Regions from separate parts of the Homo sapiens genome. Here region 2 is linked to region 1. A link means that fine-mapping ties the variant in region 1 to the expression of a gene that starts in the linked region. Tissue or cell type: whole blood. Region 1 holds a variant in brackets; the other region holds the start of a gene. All regions are shown on one strand. Distances are between the middles of the regions.

Evidence for each region. PIP is the estimated chance that this variant, and not a neighbour inherited with it, causes the effect.
Region 2: EPHA4 starts here. The variant in region 1 is fine-mapped to the expression of EPHA4 in whole blood (TOPMed, PIP above 0.99).

What each region holds. Positions count from the first base shown.
Region 1 is chr2:221,417,713-221,423,086 of GRCh38, reverse strand. EPHA4 (EPH receptor A4) reads left to right here. Exons shown (of 18, transcript NM_004438.5): 18 at 2,535-5,060. Among named protein-coding and RNA genes, the nearest start is that of EPHA4, 150 kb to the left of the region's middle. The variant T/C (reference allele first, on the strand shown) is at 2,539.
Region 2 is chr2:221,569,320-221,574,693 of GRCh38, reverse strand. EPHA4 (EPH receptor A4) reads left to right here and starts at 2,390. Exons shown (of 18, transcript NM_004438.5): 1 at 2,390-2,536. The coding sequence starts at 2,446. RefSeq lists silencers at 925-1,084, 1,135-1,414, 2,015-2,434.

The sequences.
Region 1 (5,374 bases):
TGTCTTTCACTTGTAACCCCAATTGTTTTATTACAACATGCCAGAGTGGGGTGAAATGAAGTTCAGTGGTAGGGGGGTCACACAGTGAAGCTTCTTCACTTAAATGGATTTATGAGAGTTTGGAGGTAAATACATATTTATACAATGGTGGTAGACCTTTCAAGTTATGCTGGCAGGATAAACATGCATTATTTAGCCTTGACATTTATAAAATTATTGTTTTGTAATGGGGAAGACAGTGATACAAAAGTAAAATTCTATTGCAATGAAAAGAACTGGATGGTAAAGACATTTTGATGTCATCACGACTGACTCAAAGGAACAAGCCTTTGTTTATTTAGTCACAATGAATTCTCCTTAACTCATGACCCTACATAGACCACATGCTTTGTCTGGTCTCTGTTTAAGAAATTTCCCATGATAAAGGAGTTGCCTGAATTCAATGGTGAGGAGAAGGCTTATTTCACTCAACTCGTATCCTGGCATTAAGTAGATACAAGTCTTCACATTCCCTTACATCTCAATTCAAATGTCCAATCATTTCTGCATACACACCAAGTCCCCAAATTGCCCACTTAATATTACAAATATATTTATGTAATATCTATTGATATCCAGATGTTAAGTGGAGAAGGAATTGGCAGACTGAAAGGCAACACGTGTTTATGAGACCATTCTTTCTCCTTTAAGAATTTCTAGTAGCAAAAGAAACCATTACCAACCTTGTGTGTCCGCAGGACGTGGAATACACTCTAGCGTTTTAAGATCATATTCATGTTCTCCTCATACTTCACATAAATACCTGCCCACCTGATGAAATCCCTTCACATTCAGGTTTCAAAAACTACATTTGATGGATTTGACCGATTTCCAGAGAGGAAATAGTTAGAAGGTAGATTTGATGACTTTTCTGTCATTTTTACGTAATTGTCAACATAACATTCATGTTCATGTCGACCCAGGGACCACAGGTGTGCACAACCATGCCTGGCTAATTTTTTTTTTTTTTTTTAAAGATGGGGTCTTGCTCTTTTGCCCAGGCTGGTCTCAAACTCTTGGGCTCAAGCAGTCTTCCCTCCTTGGGCTCCCAAAGTGCTGGAATTACAGGTATGAGCTACAAGACCTGGCCAGAAAACGATTTCTCTCTCTTTAAATAGACTAAAGTGTTTTCTACAATTTTAAATATGGTCGTTTACTACAAAAAATTAAATTTTATTCTCTACACGATAAATGTACACATATGCAAAACAGACAAGTGATTTGATAAAATAGGCAAAATAATCTATAAAAGTGCATTTTGGTCTTAATTACTGCCCTTTGCTTGAGGCCACCAGCTGCTAAACATGGTCACCGTGGTGGGAGGCATAGTCCAATAAGTAATCTGGATAGTTGGTTGTTATAAATGAAAGAAGGGAACTTACTTCCTTTGGTTTGAGTTGATTATGTGACAAATATATGGACAATGAGGAGCCATGAGGAGTCCATTGCTGTGTGCCAGCCTTGTTCGATTCCAGGCTGATGTCTAGAATTCCAGCCTGCGGCTGATTAGTTCTTGATATGTGGAAGGAGGCTTGAACCTAGAAGACCTCTGTCGTTCATAGAGCAAGTATCTCCCTGTGTCCCATGTTCCCTCTCTCCTGCCTGTTTACATGTAGAGAGTATGGCTCTTTCGCCATGTTAGATTAGATACTTCTATTTATCAGGAGTTACTCTCTTGTTAAGAAAAACCACCACTTTTTTTCACTTCTTAGTTTGCATTTTTCTTTTTTTTCTTTTCTTTTTTTTTTGAGACAGAGTCTCGCTCTGTCACCCAGGCTGGAGAGCAGTGGCGCTGTCTCGGCTCACTGCAAGCTCCGCCTCCCAGGTTCACGCCATTCTCCTCCTGCCTCAGCCTCCCGAGTAGCCGGGACTACAGGCGCCCGCCACCACGCCTGGCTAATTTTTTGTATTTTTAGTAGAGACGGGGTTTCACCACGTTAGCCAGGATGGTCTCAATCTCCTGACCTCGTGATCCGCCCACCTCGGCTCCCAAAACGCTGGGATTACAGGCGTGAGCCACCGCGCCCGGCCCTTAGTTTGCATTTTTCAATCATTATTGTTGACTATGGGTGGATTGTGAACTGAAACAAGTCAGGATTTTCATTTCATAGACAGGCTGTTCAACACGGTGGTTAAAGCATAAATATCAATTAGAACTTTGTGGGGTCTAATCCCAGCCTTGCCACTCCAGAGGGTATGGCATTGGGCAGGGTACTTAGTCTCCTTATGCTCAATTTCCTCATCCATATAATGGAGATAAGAATAGTACCTATCTCGGAGTTGTAATTAAGCTGTTAGTAAACAGGTTTTTTTTGCTCTTATAATTGCTATTTTTCAGAAAAGGAAAGTATAATTCGTGATCTCACCACTGAACTACTTTTACTGAAGGATACCAACTTCTACGAACCTATATATTCTTTCTTACAATAGTGGTTGACAGTTGGCTCGCAATATGGGTCGACGTTTTGTCTAAAGTCTTGCTCTTTTATCTACAGGGAG[T/C]AGATTCTGCTATCTTGGCCTCACAGCCCTTCCTGTTGATTACAAAGCCCGTGGAAGAAAACAGAACACACCCTCCTCAGTTCCGTCTAAATGTGTTTCTTCTGCTTCAATTACACCAGTTCTGGGGCAAAGACACTGATGAAACAACACCCATACCTGAAAAGAATAAATGTGTGACTTTCAAATCCCCTTTCGCAGTGAAAGAAACAGCAAACACTTAAGATTCAGCATCTGTTCTCCAGTTGCACTGAGGAATGCACTGTCTCGCAGCACCAGCTCTGCAGAGCCCTTGCCCCAGACTCTTTGCGGTTTTATTTATATGTATTTCCATATTTCATTCCTGTGTGTCACTGCTGCATTGGTGTGGCAGCAAGTGACCAAATGCTACAGGTCTTACTATGGACACCAGGTCAGGTGCAACCACACAAAACAAAGCCAGTTCCATGAGCTGCCTATGATATGCATTGCGGAAGTAACATTTTACCCAGGGTGTGCCATTGCAGTGATATAAATATATTTTTTTCTTAGACTAAATATGAGCTGACTATCTCTTTTGATGTGTGTACATAGGTGTGAGTGTGTCTGTATGCGTGCCTGTCTGTGTGCGGGTGTGTGTATGTGCGTAGCCTCATGCTTAGGACTACCCATGAATGTTGTGGAATGCTACACCTGGAGAGTTCTGGTTTTCCACCAGTTTCAAGATGAAGAACTACATGATACAGTGGACCTGGAGACCATCCCCTTGGAAAGACAACCCAGAGATGTTCAGCATCCTGTATCTACACGCATCCTGTATCTACACGTGTATTTTGTAGCTGTCACACTAACCTTAATAAGAATTCTACAGCTTTGGACAGAGGCATTTTCACCTTAATGGTGAAGTAATTTAAAATATAAATCCATTCAGGTGACAACCCATCATCAAAATTACAAATTTTCTGATTGAACTCATCTGAATCATCAGTTCCTTGATGGAGAGAGAGAAGGAGATGGAATGTGTCTGGTAACCCCAAATGGAGTACAAGTAGCCTTTGTTTTCCTGCATAAATGGACTTGTTGAATGCGAACGAATATATGCAATTCATATACTTTTGGAGATGAACGTAGATATGTGTGTCAGCTTTGAGATGGTGTGTCCTGGATTAATACTTTGTCTCCCAATATCACAGAAAAATACATGCCAGTGACTCTTGAGGTTAAGGTAGTTGGGATGAAATGGCCTCAGGCAATTTCACATTCCCTAATTACCTGGAAAGTTCTACAGTAATTAATATGCAGCTAACTCCTGTTGCCCTCACAAGAGCATCAGCCTTCTAGAATCGGAGCTCCGGAGTGTGAAGATTCAGTATTGATATGATATGTATACCAAACTCCAGCCAACTTACTGCCATTTTTCATAATCTGAGTGGCTGCCTTGCTTATCCTAAGCTGTGGTTGCAGAAACCGTGGCCATTTATATAAGCTATAACATCAAATCAGGGAAAAATGAGGAAAAAAAATAGATTCTGAACCATTTATTGTTGAATAAGTAGAGAAAATCATCAATAAATATTTATTACATTCTGACAGGGTGTGTGGCATTGTGTTCTATGCCAGAGTGACAAAGTTGATTCACCCCTTTTTGGGGACCTTAATATATTTTTTAAGGGATGTGCCTATGCATTGATGCCTGAAAAATATGTATAAAGAAATGAGGTTGACTCTTCTGAGCAGTTCATCTTTTCCAGAGGTAAGGGTAGGAGGCCAACTTCAGGGTCTGGGTCTGAGCCCGTGGGCAAGCCCTGGCCGAGTGAGCTCCAATGCTAACTCATGTGCCGATCTCTAGAGCAGTGGGAAACTACCCCGCTGCACCAAATCAAGTAGCTTCACCTTGTGTATGCAGGCCCCAAGTTATTTTTTAGCAATCTTACGAGTGAAATGTTCTGGTGGGTTGAAAAACGTTCTTATTTTAAAGAAAGGTTGTGCTCGCTACACTGCTGGTGTGTGCATTCTGAGACCTCTTGTATTCAATCTGTGAAGGATATGTGTATTAATCCGTACACCCGTATAGCCTCAATATTTGTCTGAAGACACTTAAATTCTGACCCATAAAGGAAAGTTCTAGAAGCAATATTTTCACTTATTTAACATTCTCCAAACAACATCAAGCATTGATACACACTGAAGAGTGCGTTTATTTTTTGTATCACTCTAAGTATGTTGGAATATGCAAGGACTGTGGTTCAAATTAGAATGTATAAGGCATATTATAATTTAGTTCATACTGAATAAGAAATTAACAGAACATTGTTCGGTTCACACGTTCCAAACTTTGAGTGATTTCTGGAGTTAGACATAGATTTTCTATTTTGTTTTAATTTGTCAAGGTATTTTTCTTCCCTTCATGAACTTTAGGTACACATAACTTATGTCATTTATTTATGGTCTTTTATACCTAGTTTGTAAAATTGTAAAATAGCAAACTAAATGCAAAGAGTTTGCATTTGAAAATAATAAAGTAGTTGCCGTATACAACCCTGCAATCTGGTTGTCTCTTTCAATAACTTTTGCTATATATATGGTGTGCCTAAATGAATTAATTATTTGTTGTCATTTAATTAAAACAAAAAATCTTAAATTCCAACTGAGCATACTTAGAGGTTAAAAAATTATTATCTTCTAAAGATTCTTCACCCTTCAGAACAATGCATTTGAAAAATCTGACTTAGACCATCGTAATTAAGACTGTAGACTATGGTTGGCATTCAGGCTTCACCACTTACTAATTATACAGTCTAGGGCAAGTCTCTTAACTTCTCTCTGCCCATTTCCTTGCTTGTAGGATAATTACAATGCA
Region 2 (5,374 bases), 150 kb before region 1:
TTTAGAAATTTTACTGTTTATAACAATGCAGGCAGTCAGTTTCCCGTTTCAAACACAGATAGATACATGCAACACTCAAGATCCTGCAGAGAGGCAGCCAGCATCTATTGTTTAAAAAGGTTTCAAAAAGAATTCGGATTGCTCTTTTCTCTTTTGAATCTGTGTGCCAAATGACAGGGACCAATATTCGTCTTCTTTTTCTGTAAAACTCAGAAAGACACATGAAAGAACCCAGAAATGCATTTCTTAAAGGGATTTAGTGCAGTTATTTTAAATAATTTATGCACGCACACACACATACATATATCCCCCGAGTACATATTTTTTCCCTTTTTACTTGTGTGCAATCAGTAGCTACAATGACTGAAATCCACTTCTTTGGACTGTGACATTTAAGCAAATCTTGTATCTAGAAACCGAAATGCCCAGAGTCTCGCACAAGCTGTTCGTCTGGGCCACCAACTCACACAGCCGCCGCCCAGCGCCTCGGCACGCGTGCTCATCTTGTGTAAAAGTAAAAGTTGCTCATGTCATTAGCTCGGCTCTGAGTTTGCATGAGAAACCAGCGCAGCTCTCGAGCCACGGGAGAAAACACGATCTGCTGCGGAGCCCAGTGACCTGAAACTGTAGCAGTGACTCGAGACCTGTCCTCTCCTCGACGTCGCCCTATAACCCTCCCGCTTTATTTAGGATCCGCTTTTCCGAGAGCAGCCACTCAGGCAACCCCCGGAAGGTTTGTTAGGAGTTTCTCCTTGAAACGCTTTCCGATTCCATCTTTTGAAATCCAGCAGGCGAGAGTCACGACAGACTCCAGGACCTCTTGAGCGCTGTCCGCAGCCCCACGGTAGGAGTAGCCCTAGTGCACGAGACTTGGCGGTGGCTGAAAAGCTCGCCCAAACGCACGCACCACCTCTCTGCGGGGTTGCGGATTGCGGGTTGCGGTCTTTGTCCGCTCGCCCTTCCTCCGGGGCCGCACACTCCCGCATCTGGCCGGCAGGTGGCGCGGTTGGCTCACGATGAGCTGCGGCCGGGGCTGGAGAGGCTCCTCCACCTCCCAGCGGCCGCCCGGCCGCCGGGACCCAGGCTCCCCAGGAAAACTCGGCCCTGCTCTGGAGGGAGTCAGAGGAGGGGCGGCCTGGGAAGGGGAAGGGAGGCCTCATTGCTAGGAATCAGTGCCCCTGCCAGCGCCTGGGGAAATGCACCGAGTGGCGTTGGGGACCGGTCCCTGGGACACCGGCTGCGCTGCCTTCGCCGGACCGCTCTTAGGTGGCCGCGTCCACGGCTCGGGCATCGGGAAAAGACCACAGCCCGATGGTGCCAGTGCCCCCGGGGCCGGAGCAGCCGGGCGGGGCTCTGCGGGTCCTCCTGCTCGCCGTCTTCTCCCGGGGCAGGGAGGGCTGCCCCGGCTAGGTCGGAGCGGAGAGTCGCAGCAGCCGCTCCGGGCAGCTTCCCAGTCCCGGTCTGCCTTGTCTGTGCGGCTGCAAGTCCCCGCACCCACACTTAAGCCTTTCACTTCTACCCCACCGCTCCCAGACGGGCTAGGCCCGGTTCCAGGGACTGCCCCCAACCCTGCCCCCGGGAAATCCACAACTGGTTCCCTGCCCAAGGCCATCTCGGGGCGTCCTGGGCCCTGGGCGAGGTCCACGGCGTGTGCAGGGGGACGGGGCCAGCGGGGACTTCCTTACTGCTAGAAAGTCATTCGTTCAGTCTCTGGAGACAGTGACGGAGCCCTGCTGCGGACTGGACGTTGGGGACCAAGTAGGTCCCCGCTCTCCAGGCATCTGGGGAGCCAGGGAAGAAGCGAGTGATAGAGCCACAAAACTCCCCGCAAAGAGTATTTCAGAGGGGGAAGCGCCATAAAGACAAAACAGGGCAAGGTGGCAGAGGGTGGCGGTGGCAGGCGCGAGTCTGCAGCTCAGCCCGGGCGCGCTGGACGCAGACACGTCGACTCTCCTAAAGAAGCAACCGCAGGTCAGCTTAGACTTCTTTTATTTCAATAAAAGAGCGTTTTCCTCCATCTTAAACCGCCCGTGGTGGGAGAAAAGGTTTCCAACCTCTTCTCTGGCTCCCCTCGGTCAATTCCGAGCTTTTCCAAAGTCCCTCCGCCGTCCAGGGGCTCGACCTTCGAGGTAACGTGGGGGATCCCGCTGGCTCCCTCCGGCAGGCGGGGGCGGGGACCGGCCGTGCTCGCCCCCTAGAGCCCCGGGAGACCGCGCGCCCCGTGGAGCCCGGAGGGGGCGGAACCCTGGGGCGGGCCCTGCTCGGTGAAGGCGGGGCTCGGCCGCCCTGTCTGCGCCGCCATTGGCCGCGGGCCCCGGACTGGCGGGCTCACGTCACCGGCCGGGCCCGCCCCCTTGGCAATGTCTTCAGCCCGCTGCTCTCCTAACTTAAGCATTTATTCCACTGGGATAGAAGCGGCAGGAGCAGCGTTGGCACCGGCGAACCATGGCTGGGATTTTCTATTTCGCCCTATTTTCGTGTCTCTTCGGGATTTGCGACGCTGTCACAGGTTCCAGGGTATACCCCGCGAATGAAGGTAAGAGCGGGACGGCCTTTCTGTGGTCGGGGACAGCGAGGGGCCATCGCGGGTGAGGGGTCCTCAGGAGCGCAGGGCCAGGTGGTGCGGGGGGAGCCCAGTGTGAATGGTGCGTCCCGATTCGGGAGAAGGGGGCTGAGGCGAGGGGATCGGCGAAGGGGCAGCGGGGAACCGCCGGACAGCCTGCCCCGAGGCGGTGACCCGTGCACGCGGCGGGTCTGTCCAAGTTTGTAACCAAAGGCCAAAGTTTATCAGCATCCGCCAGAGAGGCCCGCTCGAGGCGCCCTGAGGGGATGCACGGGAGACAACGCCGGGATTTAAAAAAAAAATTACAAGAACCACGTCCTCTCCTGAGCCAGCCCGGGGCGAGGGGAAAACGCAGCCTGGAGCACAGTGAAGGCTTGGTGCTCCCGGATTCTAGCGAAAGCCTTTCGAGCTCTGGTTTCTGCAAAGTTTCCCGAGCCCTGCGCTTCTCGGGACCGGGCTGCGGGGCCTGCTCCGCAGCGCAGCGGTCGTGGCGCCGCTCGTCAGGCGCCAGTGACCTGATTTCTAGCACCCGGAGTCAGACACCTTTCTCCTCGCCAAGCCCAGCGCCCCGAGGGTGCGATTGCGGGCCTGAGGGGCCCGAGCTCTTCGCCCCGCAGACTTGGGGAACCCGCCGGCAAGTTGAACGCAGTCGAGTTTTAGCTTTTCGCCCCAGAATTGCACACAGTTTAGAGCTAACGTGCGGGGTCGACGGGACCCGTCTGGGTGCTCAGTTTTCTGTGCATCCGTTCGGACGTGCTGGGAGGATTGTATGTGCCTGTGTGTCTGTGTCGGGAGGTGGGGCGGGGCGGGGGGGCGGTGATCATTTAGTTTCTGAGAAACCCAGGGAGAGGCGAACTGTGTGTGTGTGTGTGTGTATGTGTGGTGTGTGTGTGCATGTCTGCGTGTGTGTGCATGTCTGCATGTGTGGTGTGTGTGCATGTCTGCGTGTGTGTGCATGTCTGCGTGTGTGTGCCTGTGTGTGTGCGCGCGCGTGCAACTGCGTGTATGTAGGTGCGCGAATGCCTGCGTGGAAGCGGACGCGGAGGATTGTATGTCTGTGCGCAGATGTCCTGAGTGTGTGCGCGTGTGTTCGAGTGTATGCTCGTGCTCTGTTCCAGCGTATGCTGGTGCTCTGGCCTGCGTGCATCTAGTCTCACATCCGTCTCTCATTCTTCTCCTTTCCGGCATCCATCTATCTATCCGTCCGTCCATCCGTCTATCTATCCATCCATGCATCCATCCATCTCTCCGTGCATCCGTCCGTCCGTCCATGCATCCATCCATAATGCATCCATCCATATATCTGTCCGTCCGTCCGTCCATCCATCCCTCCATCCATCCACCCATTCATCTATCCATCCATCCACCCATCCATCCATCCATTCATCTTTCCATCTCTCCAGACATCCGTCCATCCATCCCTGTGTAATCTATCGTTTTCTCTGTTCCGAAGGAGGGAGCCAAAAACCAACTTAGCCTTGGCTGGGCAGCCGGTACCCGGAGCCCTCCAGACGGAGGCTCTGAGAGATTTATACACCTGCCCACAGACATCGCTTGGGAGGAAAGGGGCCCTCTCTCGCCCTCTGGATCTCCCATCTCCTTCCGACGTGGCTTCTGGTGGTTCTGGTGCCATCTCGGCCGTCGCCGCCCCTCGGTCCCTAGGGTTATTCATTCCCCTGAGAGGAATCGTGGATCCCGCGTTCTCCTGGCCACTTCACACACTTGTTAGGACGTCCCCTGAGACCTCTCTCGCCCCAGATGTAGAGACTGTTTTCTTTCTTTTTTTTAAACCCCCTCTTTTTTTGGGGGGGGGGGAGAAAAACTTGGGAGCCCAAGACAAAAAGGCTCTGAGAGCCCTAGGCTAATGTTGAAGGGGAGGGAGGGAGGTCTGTTCCCCTCCCCTCCCCCACCTCCCCCTTAAAAATTAATTCACTTTGTTGCTTTCTATTCCCATCACGTTTCCTTTTCTCTCTTTTACCCTCCCTTTCTACTCCCTCCTTTTTTTGTAAATTGGGTCTTATTGTTTCCTTTGTGTCCCTAATCCACCTTACATAAATCCAAATGGATGTAGCGGGCTTTTCTCTAGGGACAGAGAGAAGAGAATGGTTGCGGTGGGGGTTGGCGGTGGGGAGAGGAGAGGAGGGAAGGGGGCGGGAACTCCAGGCGGGAGCGACCCAGGGAAGGCTCTACATTTTAAAATCATTAACAGACCCCAGGAATTCAGACTCCCCGGGAAAAGTAGGGGAAAGAGACTGATTTTTAACTCCATTGACTTTGAGGTGAAATGAGAGGGAAAGTGGGCAGAATCCAGGGGTCTGGGGGTAAGCTTGAGTGTTGGGGTGCGCATGAGCACGGATGGCGGCTTCCCATTCCCACCCCTCCCCCAGCCTGAAGAGCCAGCCTGGCTGATCAAATTAATAACCCAGTGGTTCCTTTGAGGTGGGCCTTTCGACCCCCAGGACTGCAGATCTCGGTGGGAAAGAGAGGTTTTGAATTCATTGCGTCCCTTTGGATGTTCCCCTTACCTAGCGCTCTTCTAGCCTGAGCGGGGTACCGCAGCTCGGTGGGCTGTCCTCCCTTCCCCCCAAGCTTTGACGCACTCAGGTGTAGCACAAGCACACTAAAGCCGTTAGGCAGCACTCCATACCTAAAATTCAAGCCAGTGATTTCCTACGGGTGGAAGACGAGTCTCTGATTGTCCCCCAACACATCTTGAGAAAGAGAGAATACTTTCGGTACGTTTGCATTCTGATTCTGCACGTCTGGCATTCCCTCTTTCTGAAACTTTGATATTTAAAAAAGCAGCGGATA